Regions from separate parts of the Homo sapiens genome. Here regions 1, 3 and 4 are each linked to region 2. The links come from fine-mapping of genetic effects on gene expression. A gene starts in region 2. Each other region holds a variant in brackets. All regions are shown on one strand. Distances are from middle to middle. Region 1 overlaps ENPP5 (ectonucleotide pyrophosphatase/phosphodiesterase family member 5). Region 2 holds the start of ENPP4 (ectonucleotide pyrophosphatase/phosphodiesterase 4). Region 3 has its middle 12 kb from the start of ENPP5. Region 4 has its middle 20 kb from the start of ENPP4.

The links. PIP is the estimated chance that this variant, and not a neighbour inherited with it, causes the effect.
Region 1: its variant is the best candidate, but not a certain one, in a credible set for the expression of ENPP4 in spleen (GTEx, PIP 0.80).
Region 3: its variant is the best candidate, but not a certain one, in a credible set for the expression of ENPP4 in tibial artery (GTEx, PIP 0.66).
Region 4: its variant is the best candidate, but not a certain one, in a credible set for the expression of ENPP4 in macrophages (Nedelec 2016, PIP 0.58).

Annotation. Positions count from the first base shown.
Region 1 is chr6:46,165,332-46,170,745 of GRCh38, forward strand. ENPP5 (ectonucleotide pyrophosphatase/phosphodiesterase family member 5) reads right to left here. Exons shown (of 5, transcript NM_001290072.2): 2 at 4,722-4,783; 3 at 2,103-2,966; 4 at 56-232. The coding sequence starts at 2,931. Among named protein-coding and RNA genes, the nearest start is that of ENPP5, 2.9 kb to the right of the region's middle. The variant A/G (reference allele first, on the strand shown) is at 2,215.
Region 2 is chr6:46,126,705-46,132,118 of GRCh38, forward strand. ENPP4 (ectonucleotide pyrophosphatase/phosphodiesterase 4) reads left to right here and starts at 3,285. Exons shown (of 4, transcript NM_014936.5): 1 at 3,285-3,485. It also overlaps a transcript of CLIC5 not described here.
Region 3 is chr6:46,180,753-46,186,166 of GRCh38, forward strand. No RefSeq gene overlaps it. Among named protein-coding and RNA genes, the nearest start is that of ENPP5, 12 kb to the left of the region's middle. The variant A/C (reference allele first, on the strand shown) is at 2,897.
Region 4 is chr6:46,146,998-46,152,411 of GRCh38, forward strand. No RefSeq gene overlaps it. Among named protein-coding and RNA genes, the nearest start is that of ENPP4, 20 kb to the left of the region's middle. The variant T/TA (reference allele first, on the strand shown) is at 3,318.

The DNA.
Region 1 (5,414 bases), 39 kb after region 2:
TTGTATTTTAGCAAAAAGTAATGCAGAATGGAAAGAAATACTGTAACATACTCACACAGAAAGTCATCTGACTTATTCTGTAAAATGTGCCACCCTTCATCAGCCACTGCTATGATTGGTTGAATTCGACTGTTGTATTTGTAATGCCACCTTTCTGGAACGTCTTCTTTTTTGTAAACAGTAAGATTAGGATGAGCGTGAGTTAGTGCTTCATAGACTTCATCAAATTTACCTAAAGAGAAGGGAGGAGAGGCACTCAGAACAAAATACTCATAGCTACCATCAGCCATGGGCAACAGACTTGCTACGGAGGTGAAAAACCAGAGAGCTGAACATAAGAAAAAATTCTTTTTCCCCTTGGGGAAAACAATTTTGGGAGGGGAAACTAGGAAATAATCTTCTGTTGTAAGTTCACCTTATAGAATTAAGGAAGGGCATTTTATAGAACCAGAAACCTCTAAAGACTTCAATACACACACATATTAATTAGTGACACTATGTAAAATGTCTAGGGTACTGCAATACCCAAATAAAAATGGCTAGGTTCTGGTAGTTGTGAGTGCAGACACGAAGAATCTCCAGACAAGAAAACATGGTGAGGGGTGGGTGAGGGCTGGGAAAAGAGGCTGGAGGTGGAAAGCAGTTTGTAAAATGGAAACATCTGAAAACACTGGAGGTGTTGCCAAAGTACTCCCTATAACTACAAATGCGGTTACCCAGGCACTGTCTTTCATCCTCCTGTTTTTCAAATCCATTGCTGAGGTTGCATCCTTATCTTCTGCACCGCAACAAGAGGACATCATTCCAATTTTATAAAGGAAATCGAAGGGTTAATGTAATTTTCTCCCCTTCCATTTCCTCTTCCCTTCCCTCTTCCCTTCCTCCTTCCCTCCCTCCTCTCTCTCTCTTTCACCCCCTTCTCTTCCCTCCCTCTCTCTCTCTCTTTCCCCCTCAGTCTCTCTTTTTCTTTCTTTTTTTTCTTTCGACTGTGTCTCCCTGTCGCCCAAGGAGGAGTGCAGTGATATGATCATAGCTCACTGTAACCTAGAACTCCTGGGCTCAAGCAACCCTTCCACCTCAGCCTGGGACACAGGCATGTGTCACCACACCAGGCTATTTTTTTTTTTTTTTTTTTTAGCAACAGAGTCTTGCTATGTTGCCCAGGCTGGCCTCAAACTCCTGGCCTCAAGTGACCCTGCTGCCTCAGCCTCCCAAAGTGCTGAGATTATAGGCGTGAGCAACCACTCCTAGCTAATTTTCTTAAACCAGAAAAAAAGTGCTGTTTGCTGAAAACTGTGTGTGTAAAACACACACATATTTTAACATTCGCTGTTTCATATGATTCTAATTCCCCTCTGAGGGATGGAATTCTCATTTGTGAAATATTATAGCTTTTCAAAATCTGTTCTCTCATTTGATACCTAAGACCAACCCTGCAAAGTGATAAAATATGTCAAAGAGCATGTCTGAGTCATGTTGTCACTTATTTTGTGACCTCAGGATGTTAAACCTTTTGAGGTCACTTACCTGTCATTTACTTCTCTTTAAAATGGAGACAATACTGAGGTGACAGGTTTGGTATAAGGATTCCAGGAGAGGTTTGTAAAAAGTTTAAGGTATTGTTATTACTTTCCACATTTATAAGGAAAATAAACCTCAGATTGACCAAAGCTCTTTCTCCTTCTTATCTTCCACAGCTTCCTTGTTAAGCAGGTCCAAATTAGGAACCTATAAAAGGCTTTGGGGCTTCTATGAAATAACTGTACATGCATTCAAGTTTTGTATGTATCTTTCCATCTCAATTTTTCTGAGAAGGGAGGCTATAGCTTTCATAATATTCTATGGATCCAAAATGGTTAAAACCTACTGCCATACATACATAGAGCACATCAATTTCAGTATTCTAGGAAAAAGGAAAAAAAAATTAGGCTTTGAAAAAAGAGATTTTGTCTTTTCAGAGTCTGAGGATTAAATCCCAGAATATTACCATGACACAGGCAAAGTCTACTTTAAAGGCGCAGCAACAGAAATCCCTGTTCATTTGATCACACTGGGCAAATGCACATCTAGTCTCAGCTCACCATTCATTCAGTCAGCCTTACCTTCTTTTGGCAAGATGGCTGCTACTGGAGATTGATCAATCAGGGTATAGTGGTCTTTATCCAGGTACTGGTCAAGTTCTATTAACCTTTCCTCAGAGCACTGCGTCATTCC[A/G]TGATCACTTGTGATGATTAGGTTCAGAGTGTTCCACAACTTTGCCTTTTTCAGCATTTGTATGAGATATCCTAACTTCTTGTCAATATCTGAAATGACAGGCCCCATGAGCGGACTGTCAGGTCCCAAATGGTGGCCCATGTCATCAGGGTCTTCCCAATAGAGAAGACCAAGATTTATGGGCTCTTTTGACGTAAACCATTCAATAATTTTGGCAACTCTATCTTCAAATGAAACTGACTCATTGTAAGGCATGTAATGAGTAGGAAAGCGCTTATGTATTTTTACATCTGTTCCGGGCCACATGGCTGCACCACTAGTATGTCCTGCCCTCTGGTTTGTGATCCATATTGGTGTCGCTTCTTCCCAAAACTTGGAATCATAAATATTCATGTGATCCAAGGAGAAAGATTTGTTCCGAATAGGATCAAACATATCATTTGCAACAATCCCATGATTCTCTGCAAAGAGGCCAGTTACCAAAGTATAATGGTTAGGGTAGGTTTTTGTAATAAAAACATTAGTAACTTGCTTCACGTGAACACCATATTTCATAATATAATGAAAATGGGGCGTTGGAACTTTATATAAGTAATCCCAACGGAATCCATCAAAAGAAACTAGTAGAACCTTTTGCTGGTCTGGTTGGAGAGAAAAGGTGGTTGAAAGACTCAGTGCAGCAAGTATGAAGGACACCAAGAGAAATTTCGAAGTCATTTTCAAAGTACTTGATCAGTTCAGTGTAAGATAATCTGTAGAATAAACATATAGAAATTAAAGGCAATAATTTTGTTTTGTATACTTTACCCCAAACTCAGAGTAACAGTGCTTAGCAATCCTAGTTATATTCATAAATCACAGCCTGGAAGAATTATGTCACAGAACTCCGTATTAGATAAGAGACCTGGGGCTAAATGAATAATAAAGCTAATAAGTTTAGCTGCATTTAAACAACTTTTTCACTTCTGAGAATTTATCTAAATATCCCTCAAAGGAATTATTTAAGTGAGCTCTTCAACAGCATTTTAAAATATGACATCATTTACATAAAACTTTTAGAAACATTTTCAGGTTGATCCAGACTTTTGACTTCTGGTCAGAAACTTTTTTATAGTCAAATACCTGTGAACATCCTTAACATTATGGCTAGAGCAACTATGGCAACCTAGCAACAATGAAGTATCATTAGCAAATCGAATAATGGTGCATATACATATATATTATATATATATGTATATGCACACTTCTATTTTCAACCCCTATGTTTGGTTAATCACAGACAAAAGATGTATTACTAAAGAGAGAGGAAAATAGATGAATTTGGTTTCTTGAAGTGAAATAACATTTGTGACATCCAGATATATTTATTGAAAAGTAATCTGCATTCATTTATTAATAATCAAATCACAGCATTCGTTGAACTAAATAATTAGATTCTAAACTAAATATTAACAGAAATATAATTCTGAAATTTGTTGTTGACTTTCCTAATGTTAAAATTTGTCAAAATTTAATCTTATCATTGATAGGTGTAGTAAAAGCACTTCCCTGGTTTAAAGCTCTGTGAATCAAGGTTGCTGGTCTTTTCCCCTAATCTGTGTATATTTCTAAAATACTTTCATTCTATTGAAGAAAGCTAATAAGACGCTGTATGGATAAACAATAGATATGTAAATTTTGTCAGTTTTCATCAGGCGTGCACATCCAGCAGGGATCTTTTGTTCTCTCATTTTTCTACCCATTCCTGCATGAAGGTATTTATAAACCCACCAAAACTTAGATCAAACCACACTTGTACAAATAAATCTCTTGAAACTGCCTTTTGATATCTTCCTAAGCTGAAGACTTCTTTTTTTTTTTTTTTTGAGAGGGAGTCTCACTCTGTTGCCCAAGCTGGTGTGCGGTGGCACGATCTCAGCTTACTGCAACTTCCGCCTTCCGTGTTCAAGCAATTCTCCTGCCTCAGTCTCCCAAGTAGCTGGGACTACAGGCGCCCGCCACCACACCCAGCTAATTTTTGTATTTTCAGTAGAGACAGGGTTTCGCCATGTTGGCCAGCCTGGTCTCAAAACTGCTGACCTCAGGTGATTCACCCTTCTCGGCTCCCCAAAGTGCTGGGATTACAGGCATGAGCCACCGCAGCCGGCCTGAAGACATTTTTAAACTTCAAAAATATATCCTGTTTCACCTTGCTGTATTATAGGTACAGGTAAATAAAAACTACTTGGCATGCTTGCTTTGCTTTCAGAAATACAAGGTATATGTACATTGTGGGTATTCGCTGAGGGCAATAAATTCTGTTTTGCTGGTTTTAAACTGTGTTTTCACCATACCTAGACATTTCTTAAACTGAAATTGTTTTAGGTATTGGTCTCAAGATGATAGCTCAAATGTCATATTTAAAAACGATTTCTTGGATGGCAATACTCTCTCTGATTCTGGAAGGAACATTAAACACAGTTGCAGCAAGGAATAGCAAATAGGTTACTGCAAATATATTTACTCACCTATCTGGCTATGGATGGTAGTTGCTCTCTCTGTCCTTTCTCCCCCTAATTTTCTCTCCCACCTTTTTAAAACAAGGAAGGCTAGTATCAACCAAATGTAATTTAAGGCTAAAAGCAGAGGAAATAAACTACATGGAACACCTCATTTTCATCTATCTTAGCAAATTAATTCGGCACATGTGTAAGCAGGAGAAAACTGCTTTCTTGGGACCAACAAAAGTAAGCAAAGATTAAGTGTTGTCTAAAGCTTAGGAATGTTTGGCAAGAAGACTCAACATCACATCCATGACACAGAGCAATAAACAGAGGTGGGGGGTGGGGAATGAAAACAATCAGAATTTTTTTTTTTTTCGTGCACAAAATGCTGCACAAAACAGTGGAATCCCTGGATCTGGCTCCACATTTCATTGAGTACTTTCCAGTTCTTTCTCCCCTCCAACCCTTCCTCCACAAACAGACTTGGAGAGCAGGAAGGACGGGGCACCGATTAAACGGAAGAGGGAAAGTGCAGAAGGAGTAGGTTTGTGTAGCTCGGGTAGACGTCAAGGGCGGGGGTGTCCATCTTCTCCACCAGGATTCCATCCTAGCCACCCAGAATGGTCGCGGCGTAGGTTATGTTCCCAATTCCCAGTCATCCCGCCCACCGAGGCCTGGGCTTCTTAGATGTGCAGTGGCAAGGAGGGGACGTTGCTT
Region 2 (5,414 bases):
ACCTTAAATACTCTCCTTGACATTCAATTATTTAGTTTCAGTTGTGTTGTTGTTTAATTAGAACTGAGCAGTGGACAGGAATTGTTTTTCTTTGGGAAGCGTGTGGCTTTTGCTCTGAAACCTTCTTCCTGTAACTTCTAACTTCTGACCTTCTCCTGGCCAGCAATGAGTTATACATCACAATTAGGAGTATAAAAGAGAAATAATTGTATAGAGAGCTATGTCTTAAATTTTGAAAACAGGATAAGATTTTTAAAATATTTTGTGTTAATGAATAAATGTTCAGTCTTGAGCGTAGTTCATGGGAGAAAAAGAAACTGCCTTTGACATGCTGCTTCCAAATCTGACATTGCCCCATAGAGGCAAATGCTCTAGTTGTACTTAGTTTTTGTGTATTGATAAATAATATTTCTATACATTTATAGGGCAGATGTGATATTTTGTTACATGCATTGAACGTGTAACAATCCAGTCAGGGTATTTAGGGTATCCATTACCTCGAGTATTTATCATTTCTATGTGATGGGAACATTTCAAGTCCTGTCTTCTAGCTATTTTGAAATATAAAATACATTTAACTATAGTCACCCTACTCTCCTATCAAACATTAGAATATATTTCTTCTATCTAACTGTATGTTTGCTCAGTCATTTCTCTGTGGGGTATATTCATTTGTAAATAATAAGTTTAGACTATTGCCTCTAATTCATTTCAATCTCTAACATAAAATGGGTTTAAAGGCTCTCTATATTTCCAAAATTTATATAAAATTCCCTTTGCAAAAGCTGAGCTGAAAGAACATTATAAATGAATATTATTTTGCCTACCTAAATAAAACAACACTTATGCCTAAAAATCACATTGTAAATAAGAAATTTATGTTACTATTATGTTTTCTTTTATTATCATTAAAGTTCTACAATGAAACTATAGTGAACTTTGTGGCCGGCTTCCCAGCACCCATTCCAACTCATTTCCATTGAGAAAAAAAGTAAAGTTTGGGTGAGACCTCAGTTTAAGATGTGGACTGCATTGGTCTACAGGTAACCATATCCTTTGCTGGCTTAGATTTGGATATGTGACACAATTCTGTCCAAAGTGATTAAAGGAGACAGTTGCTGAAGACTTCTAAGAGACAGAAGAAATCTAGACGTCATTTCTATCACCCAGTGGAAGTGAAAAATGAATTACATGGTTCCTGTTGCTGCTGGTAGTTATATTTACCACTAAAGGAACCAGAAGTCTACTCTGTTAAAAGCCAAGTGTAAAGCTGCAAAGAACTGAGTACATTATGAAATCGTTGAGTTGCTAACTCAACCAGTCCTGAAGTCTGCCTTACCTCTGGACTTCTTGTTCCACAAGACGATAAATATCCTTACTATAACAGGATTTTGGTTGTGGTTGAAATGGTAAATATATAGAGGATAACAAAAGTTTAGGGCCAAAGGTCCTTATGTGTCATTTTGTCCCTCTGTTCCTGACCACTTTATCTTACAGAGCAAGAGCCCAGGTGGCATGAGACTCCCTAATTTAACCCAGCCACACAGGCAGTAGCAGTGGATAAAGAGAGTCCTCTCCTGATGCCCATCCAGCTGCTATCTTCACCACACATCTGACCTAGATGGCATTCAGTTTTGTCCACCCTTTAAGCATACATATGCACCTACTGAATGAACAAACAGGATATGCACAATACCCCCAAATGCCACAAAATTTAAGTTCTGCTAATCTTAAATGTTATGTCATTGGACATTACCTAAATTCCCCCAAAACTTGGCCTTACCCTGACTATTGTTCAAATTGGGGTACTTTTTTGGTCATAATGATAATAATCCCCAAAACAACATGTGTCAGATACTGTGCTGAATACTCTACTCGCTTTCCTCATTCATTTGATAGTAAGAGGTTGGTATTGTAACAAGACGCGTTTTGCAGATGAGGAAATGAAAGCTCAAATAGGTTGAGACACTGGCCCATGATTGCTCTGCTGGTGAGTGACAGAGTGAGTATTCAAACCAGGTTCTAGGGTCTGCAGGTTCTAGGGATTCAGCTACAGACCCACTACCATCCCCTCCAGCTCTGAAAGCCCATGGATCTAAGATGCCCATATTCACCAATGCACAGGCCAACCTGAGACTTAAAACTGGAATTAATTTATCAAGGCACAAACTAATAATCAACGGAATACATCTATTGCCAAATCATCTCCATGGCTGCTTCCAGATTGTTGGTAATAGCTATACTGTAAGGTTCAGACCAAGGGGACCAACGTCAGAATTTGTTATCTAAGGTCCAGTACTGCAGTTTACTAATCCAGGTACTGGATTTACAGCTATTAAATACTTAACACTTGAGGATATCACATGTGATTAATATTCTTAATTTATTTGTACTTTTTATTTGAGCTGGAGATACAGTAGTGAACAAGAAAGAAAATACCTTCTGGAGCCTGCATTTTAACAAGCGGGACAATTAAATTCAATAGTGATTTAGCAAGTACTTCTATACCAAGTTCTGTTTGGCACTACAGATAAAAAGAAAAAAGATGCTATCCTCTCACTGCCAAGTGTGCCTGGACAACCCAACTGTTAGCGAATAATTCTACTTCTGTTTGGTAACTGCTCTTTATGTTGGAAAGTTTAGTTACATTATTCTATTAAATAACCTTCCAATTAAAAGCAGGAGCACAATCCCACATACGCGTCTGTCAAAGTAAGCACCCATTTCTCAGCTGTAACTCATTACTGGTTCCCTGCCGCAGGCACTGTGCTGCTTTTAACCTTACTTGTAAACTATTACCTAACTTCCCCGGTAAAGGTGCTCGCTTATCCAGTAAGACGGACAGACGTCTATGGTAGATCCACGTTTCATTTATCCCAACTCACTGGAACTGGCTGAAGCTTCTCCAGACTTGTGCCGGACCTTGGTGCAGCCAAAGTTGCTTTCTCCGCGGCCACCTAAGCTGCCAGGTGCACATTAACTAAGTGGCAGAAGGCCATCGGCTTGGCAATTGCCTGAGGCCTTTCCGGGACTCGCTGGTTTTTAGGTTCCATGAAGGGCATCCAGATCTAGGATGATACGAAAAGTGCGTGGTGGGAGAGTGGAATCAACCTCTACTCTTAGGTCCGATACAACCCCTCCAAGCACCTGTCTAACCAATCGGAAAGAAAGTTACATTCAACGCTGGTTCTAGCATCCAATCCAAGGACGTGTTTCAGACTCTGCTGCCCGGTCCCAGCCAGCCCTGAGCTGGCGCCTTAGACGCTCGCCTGGCAGCTGCGCACACTCGGAGCGCCCCGAGCGGCGCAGATAGGGACGTTGGGGCTGTGCCCCGCGGCGCGGCGCCTGCCACTGCGCAGGCGCCTCAGGAAGAGCTCGGCATCGCCCCTCTTCCTCCAGGTCCCCCTTCCCCGCAACTTCCCACGAGTGCCAGGTGCCGCGAGCGCCGAGTTCCGCGCATTGGAAAGAAGCGACCGCGGCGGCTGGTGAGTACGCGCCTCGCGCGCTCGGCGTTCTGGGGGGCAATGTCACCCCCTCTCCAGTCCCCTAGGGGCTTTGAAAATAGAGATGGTGAGACCAGACCCTATGACCCACTCTCCCCCACTACACGCACATCCCCTGGGGCGCGGCGGGGACGTCCACGAAGGGACTCAAAGAGCCAGGGAGGTGGCGGGCCGAGGCGGAGGCCAGGAAGGGAAGAGGAAAGAAAAATTAGCAGGTGCTGGGGAAGGCAACCTGTGGTGTTAAGTGTGAAGGGAGGGAAGTCAGCCGAACGGTAGTGGAGGAACCTAAGGTGGGTCTGGGGTAAAATTGAGGGGAGCTGGGGCGGGGTCGCCAGGCTTTTGGTTTTAAAGGAGAACCACCCATGGCATCGACATCCGTCTGTCTGAATATTAGATTAGAGTTTATGTTAATTATAGATAATGATATTTAAGAACTAATTTCCTGGAAAACAAGCCAACCAAACAATAAAAGGTACATTTAAGTGCCTTTTTAAAGGGCTGGATTAAAAGCACGTAAGGACTTAAAAACAATGCTTCCTTTTCTTGTCACAACCACCCTATGAGATCATAGCATTCCCATTTTACAGATGACGAAAGTCAGGCTCAGAGAAGTGAAGGGACGCGTCCAACCAAGATTGTACAACTAGTGACAGGCAGATTCAGGTTTACACCAGATCTGACTCCAGAAGGGCTTTGCTTAATCAGGCAATCTTGTGGACCCAAGTCTGAAGGAAGATTTGCCAACTACTGTGAAATATCAACTGCTGGTTTCAGTATTATGAGCTTCTATTTCTTCTTTTTTCCCCTCAGAGATTGTTTCAATCTGTTTTAAGGAAATTAAGAGGCCTGCTGCACTTGTGCGTCTTCCCCCCACCTCCACTTAAATTAGTTACAGGATATAATTTGGAAGACATTTTTTTTTATGGTCTCAGGTCTTAGATTTATTTATTTATTAATTATTATTATTATACCTTAAGTTTTAGGGTACATGTGCACAATGTGCAGGTTAGTTACATATGTATATATGTGCCATGCTGGTGCGCTGCACCCACTAACCCATCATCTAGCATTAGGTATATCTCCCAATGCCATCCCTCCCCCTTCCCCCCACCCCACAACAGTCCCCAGAGTGTGATGTTCCCCTTCCTGTGTCCATGTGTTCTCATTGTTCAATTCCCACCTATGAGTGAGAATATGCAGTGTTTGGTTTTTTGTTCTTGCGATAGTTTACTGAGAATGGATTTCCAATTTCATCCATGTCCCTACAAAGGACATGAACTCATCATTTTTTATGGCTGCATAGTATTCCATGGTGTATATGTGCCACATTTTCTTAATCCAGTCTATCATTGTTGGACATTTGGCTTGGTTCCAAGTCTTTGCTATTGTGAATAATGCTGCAATGAACATATGTGTGCATGTGTCTTTATAGCAGCATGATTTATAGTCCTTTGGGTATATACCCAGTAATGGGATGGCTGGGTCAAATGGTATTTCTAGTTCTAGATCCCTGAGGAATCGCCACACTGACTTCCACAATGGTTGAACTAGTTTACAGTCCCACCAACAGTGTAAAAGTGTTCCTATTTCTCCACATCCTCTCCAGCACCTGTTGTGTCCTGACTTTTTAATGATTGCCATTCTAACTGGTGTGAGATGATATCTCATTGTGGTTTTGATTTGCACTTCTCTGATGGCCAGTGATGGTGAGCATTTTTTCATGTGTTTTTTGGCTGCATAAATGTCTTCTTTTGAGAAGTGTCTGTTCATGTCCTTCGCCCACTTTTTGATGGGGTTGTTTTTTTCTTGTAAATTTGTTTGAATTCATTGTAGATTCTGGATATTAGCCCTTTTTCAGATGAGTAGATTGTGAAAATTTTCTCCCATTTTGTAGGTTGCCTGTTCACTCTG
Region 3 (5,414 bases), 54 kb after region 2:
TACCACCTGGCCATCTTGGACTCCTCATGCCAGTGGATCAGAAGGGAGTTATAGTAATGTTGGGGTAAGTAACCTGCTTTTCTTGAGGGGAGAGGGTTGATACTACATAATGGGAACAGAGAGGAATATGCTTACTTGTATATCTTCTATCTCTTTATTCTTCTGATTGCCGAGAGATTGCCTCTTTGTCTGATTTTCTAATTCACAAATTTATTCTTTAGCTGTTTCTATCCTTTCTTTATCCCACCTTTGGTGTAGTTTTTCAGCTATTATACCTCATATATTTTCATTTTTAATGATTTTTTATTCTTCTTCATATTACTAATAGCTTGTTACATCTCTTTAAGTATATTTATCATGTTTACATAAAATTCTTGTTCTATCTCTTTTAACACTTTTGTTTCAAATGGTATATCTTAAAGATTTTTGGATTTTTTGAGGTAGTTTTAAATTGCATTATTATTTTGGATTTTTAATTTAGATTTCTCTTTAAATGTTTTAATAAGTAGTGGGGAAGGGCTGAAGGCCAGGTCCTAGCCTAAGCTAAGTTATCCTGATCCAGTTAAGGATAAGTGAGGGTCTAATGCCTGAAGGCAGATGCTTATTCCTATAGACTATCTTGGGCAGATGCTTATTGCTATAGACTATCTTTCAAGATTCTCAAACTCCTATCCACAGATCTTTCCGCCATTTAAAATTAGTTCTTGTGTGTGGTGTGAAATAGAGTGTAAGTGCAAATAGGAGTCTAAGTTAAAGAAAAAATTTTTTAATAGCCAATTGTTCCAGTACAATTTTTAAAAGGTATTTTATTTGCTTTTAAATTGCTTTGGTTCCTTTATCATAAACAATTTGCTTTATAAGCATGGATCTATTTCTGGCCTCTCAATTCTAGCTCATTGACCTGTTTGTCTGTCTTCTTATCAATACTACATTGTCTTGATTACCAAAGCTTTGTAATAAGTCTTGAGGTGAGGTAGTGTGAGTTCTCCAACATTGCTCTTTCTCAAGATTGTTTTGACTATTTTAGGTCCTTTGCCTTTTCATATAAATGTTAAAATCAGCTTTTCTATGATCCTTTTTCTATCTATTATTTTTCTATAAAAATGCTGGTCTGGCATGTAATTGGGATGACAGCAGATCTACATACCAATTTAGGGAGAACATTCAAGCTTACAATATTAAGTATTCTGGTGCATGAACATGGGAAATGACTCCAGTTTTCAAAATGAGCAAATTGAGGTTTAGAAAGCCTAAATGATTTGATAGAGTTATAGACCTGAAAGCAGCAGAAGCTTTTTAAATCTATTTACAATTAATTGACTCACCAGAATGGCCTACACTCTTCTTTTCCTCTGCAAATCATATTAACTACTACCCCATGGCATTGTAAACTTTTTTGGCTAATCTATTTCTGTCTAACACGTCTGCTTCTGCCAGATAAATTTTAGACTTATCTAGAGTCAGTTGTGTTTTTTCCAGTATCTAGTTTTTGAAATAGTGTTTGTTGTTAGAATTAAATAATTTAAATAAAATACATTCTAACCTAGCGATTCCATTTTTGAAAAATTTATCCTGTCAGAGATGCACAAAAAGATTTTGGTATGACAATATTTATCATAGTCTTAATACTAATACTATTTGGTATTTTTATATGATGGCTACTATTCAGCCATTATAAACCACATATTCAAAGATTGTTTAATATGTGGGAATTCCTATGATAAAATATTTGAAGAGAAAAGCAGGATATAAATCTATACTGATGCTTTTTGACTTAAAGTGGGGTTACATACTGATAAACCCGTTATAAGTTGAAAATATCATAAGAGGAAAATGGATTTAATACATCTAGCCTACTCTACTTTAAATGTGCTCAGAACATTTATATTAGCCTATGATATAAGTGATTAGTTGGGCAAAATCATCTCTCAAATACTGTTTTGTAATAAGATAATGAATATCTCATGCAATTTGTTGAATACTGTACTGAAAGTGAAAAACAGAGTGTTTGTATGGGTACTTGAAGTATGGTTTATACTGAATGTGTTTCACATCTGTAACATCATAAAATCGAAGAAAAGTAACTCAAGGACCATCTGTACATGTATAGAAGAATCCTGGTATTTATAGTATTCCTGAATTTTCTACTCTTGCCTGTGTAGCTTCCTGTGATCTTTCTTGTTATTTCGGGGGCATATTTCCATAATCACCTCAATTCTCTGTGTAAGAGACACATATGGCAAGGATGGCATAAACACAAACACTGACTTTATACTCCTCCACCCCCAGTGACTTGGTCACAAGGCAATTCTGTTGTAATTGAACCGGGGTGGGCAGTGTGATGGGGGACTGGTGTAAGTCCTGGAATCCAAAGGCACAAAAGCATGAGAACCAGGAACTTCAATGTCCAAGGGCAGAAAGAGATGAATGTCCCAGTTCATAAAGACTGAAAAGAGGAAAATTGGCATTTCTCTGTCTTATGTTCTATTTGAGCCCTCATCGGATTGGAGATGCCTGCCCTCATTGGTGAGGGCAGATCTTCTTTTCTTACTCTAACAATTCAAAATGCTAATCTCTTCTGGAGATACTCTCACAGACACACCCAGAAAGAATGTTTCAGCAGCTACCTGGGCATCCCTTAGCCCAGTCAAGTTGACACATAAAATTAACCACCATACCCATAAAGTGCATTCGGAACTCTGACCTCATCCTATGCCTTTTAGATGCTATTCTCTCCCCCTCATGTCATGTTTTTTATTCTGCTGTGTAGTTTGTGAAAAACAATTTTCTTAACTCCCATAATTAAGGCCATTTCATGGCATTTAATTTCCCCTATGGGATCTTACCATCATTGGATAGAACATCCAGTGTGATGTGTTTTGTACCCTAGAACTGG[A/C]CATATAGATTTCTGTTTTTACAAGTGATGCTAGATAAATCCTGTGGCATTTTAGATAATGGCTATATGACCCTATTGGGAGCACCGTTTGCACTCAAATGATGAATTATCTTCCCCAATACAACTATGAGGAAATATCCCCCAAAATAAGCAGGACCAACTTTATTTCAGGATTCTCATGTCTCCTATTCATTTGTTCATAATTTTCCAGAGAAATTAGATTTATTATTTCAGTGCTTATAACATCAGAGTTAGAAAGATAGATAAAGAATCTATTCTTAGAGGAAGATAAAAATGAAATTGGGGCATAAGTAATGCTCACACATGAAAAGAGGTGAGTTATTCAGTACAGTCACTGGCTCTATAAGATAGAAGAAACCCCATGGGTACTATCTGATAAGGACTAAGTAAAGAAACCGGCAAAGATGAGTGCTTGTGAGTGTTTGATGGGACATGATGTGGGGTAAGTGGATTTGCTGTTGTATTTTCCCTACTGCTTTAGCTCTTAGGTTTCGCAAATATCTGTTATAAAGAAAAGTATAACTACAGTATAAATTCACCAAGGAGCCATGTGGAATCCCGAAAATGACCTGGATGTGATCCTCTGACTGCATTCCATTCGTATTCCTCCACACTGGCAGTATTCCAGGACCTGAAAAACATGACTTGCTGTGGAACTTGGCAAAATCCCCCTGGAGGAAGCTACTACTCATTGATTTAAAATGGACAGAAAAGCTGTTTCAAACACTTGCTTAAGCAGTTTTCCTCCTATTAATTTATCTACTTCTTACAATGATCCAGCGAAGTGGGTACCATCATCCATCTCATTTTATGTATGAAGAAACTGCCCTAGAGATATTAAACTAGTAATAGATATAAATTCTAACCTAGAAATTCCATTTAAAAAAATTTATTCTGTCAGAGAGGGGAACAAAGATTTTAGTATCACAATATTGATTATTGTCTTATTACTAATACTCCCCATTAAGAAACAACCTAAGTGTCTCAAAAAAAGAAATGATTAAGAGCATTTGGTATTTTTATATGATGGCTACTATTCAGCCATTATAACTTGCCTAGTTTACATAGCTAAGAGCTGTCAGAGCTGTGGTTTGAACCTAGGAATTTCTTTTTTGTAAAGTCCACACTTTTAACTATAGCCTGTCTCCAATCATATACAATACATCATATGATGTTAATAGCACAAAGAAAAATTTTAAAGAAATTTATTAGCTTGCATTTTATCTGTCTATTTACAGTGTTTTCTTGTTGCTTGAAATGACTAGTTCTCAATTTAGCAATATCCTGGGGATGAATTTAGGAATCCTATAGTCCCATTGCTACATATTTTACTTGGACTTACTACTTACAGCAAAAGACTAAAAATACAATAGGGCAAGATACATTATTCTCTGTTGTTAAGCCATGTAGTCCAGTGAAAAGAAAATCAGGAAATATAGCCTTAATTCCTTCTATGACATTTCCCCTCATTCCTGAGCAAGCATGGTGCTTCCAGAAAAGCAATCATATTCGCAGCTATAGATGAAGTAACATAGGAGAGAAATTTAGTCTGGATACTTCCTTGTGATGCTTTGCCTGACTATTTCCTTCAAAGTTTTAAGGACCAAACTCAGGAGTCCCTTCCTCCAGGAAGCCCCTTCCTCCCTCAGCTCTGCCTGATTATGTGCCACTCCTCCACACTCCCAGAGTGCTCTGCACTCTTCCATCCTTGCACTTGTTCTGTAATTGTTGGTTAATATGCCAAAGAACTGAGACTGAGCCTGATGAACTGTGCATGCCCCACAGCTTCCCAGTGAAGTTTACTAAATGAATGGATGAGTGAATGAGGGAATGTGGAGGACAGGAGGATGGAGAGATCCAGAGTTAAATTACCGTGTTAGGTTTTAAACTTTGGTATCTTCTGAGGACAAGGACTATGCTTCATTCATAGCACCAAGCTTGGCACATTAGCCTTGTTCAATGTTCTGAGATAACTGTTGTTTAATATGCGAGGATGAAACTGTCACTATGTTAAATAAGGTGTATATATGAATGGTTTGCCTCAGGTGGAAGCTATGCCTTCCCAACAGCTTTTCTACCAACTCTTTTTATTCTTAGTAAAAATATCTGAAATGTTTCCAGGATGAGAGGTTGACATGTTTGACAGAATGAATTTTGGAAAGAACAACTTATGTTTGGATAATAATGAATAGCCCAGTTCATCCTGTATCAAGTCCAGGTGGAGAAGCAGTGAGAGGAGAGATTAAAAAGACAATTGTGGAATGCTCTAATAGCCACTCAGGCTGACTAATTTGTATCTTGTTCTGGAGACAAAAAGGAACCAAAGAAAGCTGTTGAGTTATAAAGTAACAAGAGCACATATTTACTATAAAAGAGATTTTTTAAAAAGACATTTAAACGAGTTTATTATCTGTTTGAAATAAGGTGCTGGATTTGGTAACTCTATTGGTAACCACTTTATTTCACCCTAAGAAACGTCTCAGTGCTTGGCATATTG
Region 4 (5,414 bases), 20 kb after region 2:
ATGTTTAAACTTTGTACATAGCCATAGGCATTTAATGACTTGTCCAATTGAATATAGATTCAAGAATTCTCCTATTAGAGCAGTGATTAATTCATTTCCTATTTTTGTATTAAAAGAACTCTGCTAAGAATTGTAGGAAAACAAAAGAATAAATGGAACATTTTTTACTCTGAAAGAGAATTATTTCAAAAGTGGTAAAACTTTATTTATACCAACAAATTACCTATGTGTACTCATGGGTTAACTCTTGCTGCTGAGAGCCTTGTATCTAGAATCATTTTCCAGACCTTGTGCTTCCTGAGGTTCAGATGCTAATTTTGCCTCTTCCCCCAACTCCCAGCCTCCTTAGTGCCTATGTTTGGTTATTATTACATCCTTCTCACCCCATCCTCCACTAGTGTACTCACACACACATTCACAACCATTGCTTGAAAGAATATGTGAGAATCTAAATGATCCATCTGGGCTCTGGAGTCCTGTAACAGACATGCTGATCACAACATATATGTGTATGTGTGTATGTAAGTATATGTGTAAGTGTATATATATATGTATGTGTGTGTGTATACTATACATATATGTATGTATATACTAATATATATATGTACAGGCACATGTGTGTATAGTTCTATATTCTTATGTAATAACTATGTGTATATGTTGAAATGACTAGATCCTCTGACTCCTGTCCCATGGTCAAAATTACCTGGGAGGTAAATGCAGAGTCTATACCTAAAGAGTAAGCCAAACTGCTATGCAGGCTTTCTGTGTCCACGTATCTTTTTTTTATCCTTTTGACCTCTGAAATCTCATTTCCACCGTCAATACACAACCTGGTGAGCTCTTCCACTGACAGCTCCATGATGATGATTTACAGACATGTGTCTCCAGTCTAGACCTTCCTCTTCTGTTAAAGATACAAATTGCTATTAATTTAATCAGCATTACATTCATATCAACCATGCTCAATCTCACTTTCGTAGGCGAGTGGTGGAAAGGAGCAATAGAAATTAACCCCAAAACAAATCTAGAAAATTTCACTATATAAATAACCATTTTATAAAGGGGCTTCTATAGGTTAGACAGAGTACTATTGATTTACAAAATGTTTGAAATATCCACTGAGGAGAGTGAATATGTTTTTTACACTCGAAATTTCTGTGAAGATTCTCCCTCACTCCCCCTTTTTTTGTAATCTTAAAAAGACATGTTGGGTTCTGTATCCAGTAATGGTAGACTGTGTAATTCAAACCAGTGCTCTTACTGAGGACTAGAAAATCTGGACAAATAAAAGATTTGTGCTTATGCATTGAGGAATTTCCAGAAAGTGAAGAATGAAGAGGCTAGGATTTAGAAGGAAAAAAAAAACCCAATAAACATGAGTCCCTAATGGCATCTATGAATTGTGGAAGAGGCAGCTGAAAGGCTGAGAAGCTAACCTAATCAGAAGAGACTAGGAGCGGGTGATTGAAGGAGAGAAGGCACAGATGTAAATATATCTATTAAAATCATGCATCTGCACTATTTGGCACAAATTTGAAAATATAAATGAATAATTTCCTAGGAAAAAAATTATTGGATAAAACTGACTCCAGTAAAGAAAGAGAAAACAAAAACATACCAGTTTCTGTATTTAGGAAAAGGTTGAGGCAGTTATAGTGTATAAAAAAGTATCAGGCCTCAAAGACAATAATCCTTTTTTTTTAGTGACTCTGTCAGGCTTGGATATCAGTTTATATTTGCCTCAAAAAACTAACATTTTAGAAAATGAAGTATATTATTTTTAAGGTGAATAAAACTGATACTGAACTTGAAAAAATAGCACACAAAAAAACTATGGACCAATCTTGAATGAAAGAAACATTTTTCAAAAATGAAAATTAAACCACATCTGTAATTAGATGTAAATAGACTGAACATTCCAGTGAAAAGGCAGAGATTATCAAAGTAGATGAAAAAGCAATATCCAACTACATGTAGTCTACAAGAGAATCACTTTAAATACAAAGACACAAATTGAATTTTAAAAAAGGATAGAAAATAACATGCCATGGAAACTGTATTAGTCCATTATCACTCTGCTAATAAAGACATACCTGGGACTGGGTAATTTATACAAGAAAGAGGTTTAATTGACTCACAGTTCCACAAGGCTGAGGAGGCCTCAGGAAACTTACAATCATGGCGGAAGGGGAAGCAAATATGTCCTCTTCACATGGTGGCAGTAAGGAGAAGTGCAGAGCAAAGCAGCGAAAAACCCTTATAAAACCATCAGATCTGATGAGAACTCACTATCACGAGAACAGCATGGAGGTAACTGCCCCCATGATTCAATTACCTCCCACCAGATCCCTTCCACAACATGTGGGAATTGTGGGAACTACAATTCAAGATGAGATTTGGGTGCAGACACAGCAAAACCATATCAGAAACTAACCATAATAAATATATACATATTGATATCAGAAAAAGTAGTCTTCAAGACAATAATTTTCAGGAACAGAGAGATTTCATTAATGTACAAGGACCAATATGTAAGGAAAGCATGACAATTCTAAAAGTGTTCATACCTAAAAACAGCTTAAAAACACATTAATCAAAAACTGATGGAACTAAAGAGAATTCGTAAACATAATTGAAGAATTTAGCACTCCTCTCTAAGTCGTTGATACACCAACCACACCAAGAAAAAAAGACAATAAAGATACAGAAGACTTGAGTGATTTTATTAACCACCTTGACTTAAATGAGATTTAGAGGAGATTACAGCTCCAAACTGCAAAATATATTATTTTTATAAGTATACATTGAAGAATTACCAAGTTTGGCCATACACAGGACCAGAAAACAAGTCTCAGTAAATAATCTCAAAGAACTGCAATTTTACAAAGTATGTTTTCTGACCACAATGGAACGAGGGTCAATAACAATACAATTCAGAAAATCCTTAAATATTTGGAAATTAAACAATACAATACACTTCTAAATAACTTATGAGAAAAATAAAAATAAGGCAAATAAAATATTTGGAAATGAATGATCATAAATATGTAGCACTAAAATCTATAGTATGCAACTAAAGCATTAGAGGAAAATTTGCAGCTTTGAATGCCTATCTTAAGAGAGGCTGAAGGGTTCAGAATCAATGATTACAGCCTTCGCTTTAGGAAAACAGTAAAAGGAGGAAATAATCCAAAGTCAGTGGGAGGAAGGATATAATAAAAATAAGATCCAAATTAATGAAATCGTGAAGAGAAAAAATAATAAAGTGAAAATTTATTTTTTAAAAACATACTAGTAAAATTGGTAAGATGACC[T/TA]AAGAAAAAAGGGAGATAGCAGAAACTGGCAATATCAGTAATAACAGAAGCGCCATCACTGCAGATCCTACATATGTCAAAAAGATAATACAGAATATTATGCCAATGGATTTGACAATTTACATAATAATGGATAAATTCACCGAAAAATGCAACTTACCAAACAAATAAAAAATGTGAATAGCTTTATATCTATCAGACATTAATTTATAAAAAAATCCTTATAAAGAAAACTTCAAGTCCAGGTGTTTCACTGATTAGTTCATCACACATTTGATGAAGAAATGATACCAGTTTTACATAAATTCTTATGGAAAATAGAAGACGAAGGAACACGTTTTATTTATTTGTTTGTTTGTTTATTTATTTATTTATTTATTTATTTATTTATTTATTTGACAGAGTCTCTCTCTGTCACCAGGCTAGAGTGCATTGGTGCGATCTCGGCTCACTGCTACCTCCGCCTTCCCGTTTCAAGCAATTCTCCTGCTTCAGCCTCCTGAGTAGCTGGAACTACAGGCACGTGCCACCACGCCCAGCTAATTTTTGTATTTTTAGTGGAGACGGGGTTTCACCATGTTGGCCAGGATGGTCTCCATCTCCTGACGTCGTGATCTGCCCACCTCGGCCTGCCAAAGTGCTGGGATTACAGGTGTGAGCCACCTCGCCCAGCCAACATATTCTTTTTATAAGGCCAGTATAACACTGGTACAAAAACGTGAAAAAATATATTAAAAGACCAGTATTCTTATGAACAAAAATACTTAACTAAATATTATCTAATTGAATTCAGTGGTAATTCAAAAGGATAATGCACATGAATAAGTGGAGTTTACTACAGGGCACAGAATTGTTTTGATCATTGAAAATCAATCAATGTTATGCTGTATACTAATAGAAAAAAAGGAACACATTATCAAGTCAATGAATGTGGAAAAGTATTTGGCAAAATTCAACACCTATTTATTAGTTGAACAAACTGATTAAATTTGGAATAGAAGGAAACTTCCACCAGCTGATGAATGCCATCTATTAAAAAAAAACAAAAACAAAGCCAAAGCTAATATACTGAATGATGAAATAGCAAATGTTCCTCTCCTGGGATCAGGAACAGGGCAAGGATGTCCACTCTCACCACTTATATTTAACATTGTACTGCAGGTCCTAGCAAGTGCAATAAGGAAAGCAAAAGAAGTAAGTATTGGAAAATAAAACTCATATTCACAAATGCATGATAGTATACATAAGAAATCCAACAATCTACAGATAAACTCTGAGTTTAAAAAATGGCTAGATATCAGGTCAATATACAAAAATCAAGTGTATTCCTATATCTCAGCAGAAAACAATTAGAAAAGGAAAATTTTAAACTCATATTATTTACATTGCTATCAATAAGCATGGAATATTTGGGAATAAGTCTAACAAAATACATGCAGAATCTTTGCACAGAAAATTATAAAGGAGTTAAGGGAGACCAAAATAAATAGAGGGCTATATCATGTTTGTAGGTTGGAAGGTTAAATATTATAAAGATGGCAATTCTTCCCAAACTGATAATTGCATCCAAGTAATTTCAGCAGGGTTTTATTTGTTTTTTTATGGAACTGCAGAAGCTGACTGTAAAATTTGTGTAGAAATGCGAAGAGCCAAGACAATTTTGAAAAAAATAAAATGGTAGGACATACTCTATCAGGTGTCAGGAATAATTCTAAAAATATAATAAGAGAGTATAGTATTGACCCAAGGATTAAAAAATAGATAAACAGAATTAATCACCTTTGTTAAAATCAAGAATCCATACATCTGTGGGTGTATTAGACTTCTCTTGTATACCCTCAAACGCAGTCAATATACTCTTACTCCAGTTTTATTTTGGCTTTGGCTAGCTTCCCACAGATGCAACCTGACAATGCTTAGCCTCTTTCTTCTTGGCCCAGACATGACTGGCCTGAACACTAAAGTGGTGAGTGCCTCTAAGATCATACTTGGCACTTGGGCATGCACTTTTCAAGAAATATAGGGAGTTGATGCCCATGGGGCCATGTAAAAGTACAATGAGAAGGCAGCTGTCTGCAACCCAGGAAGAGAGCCCTC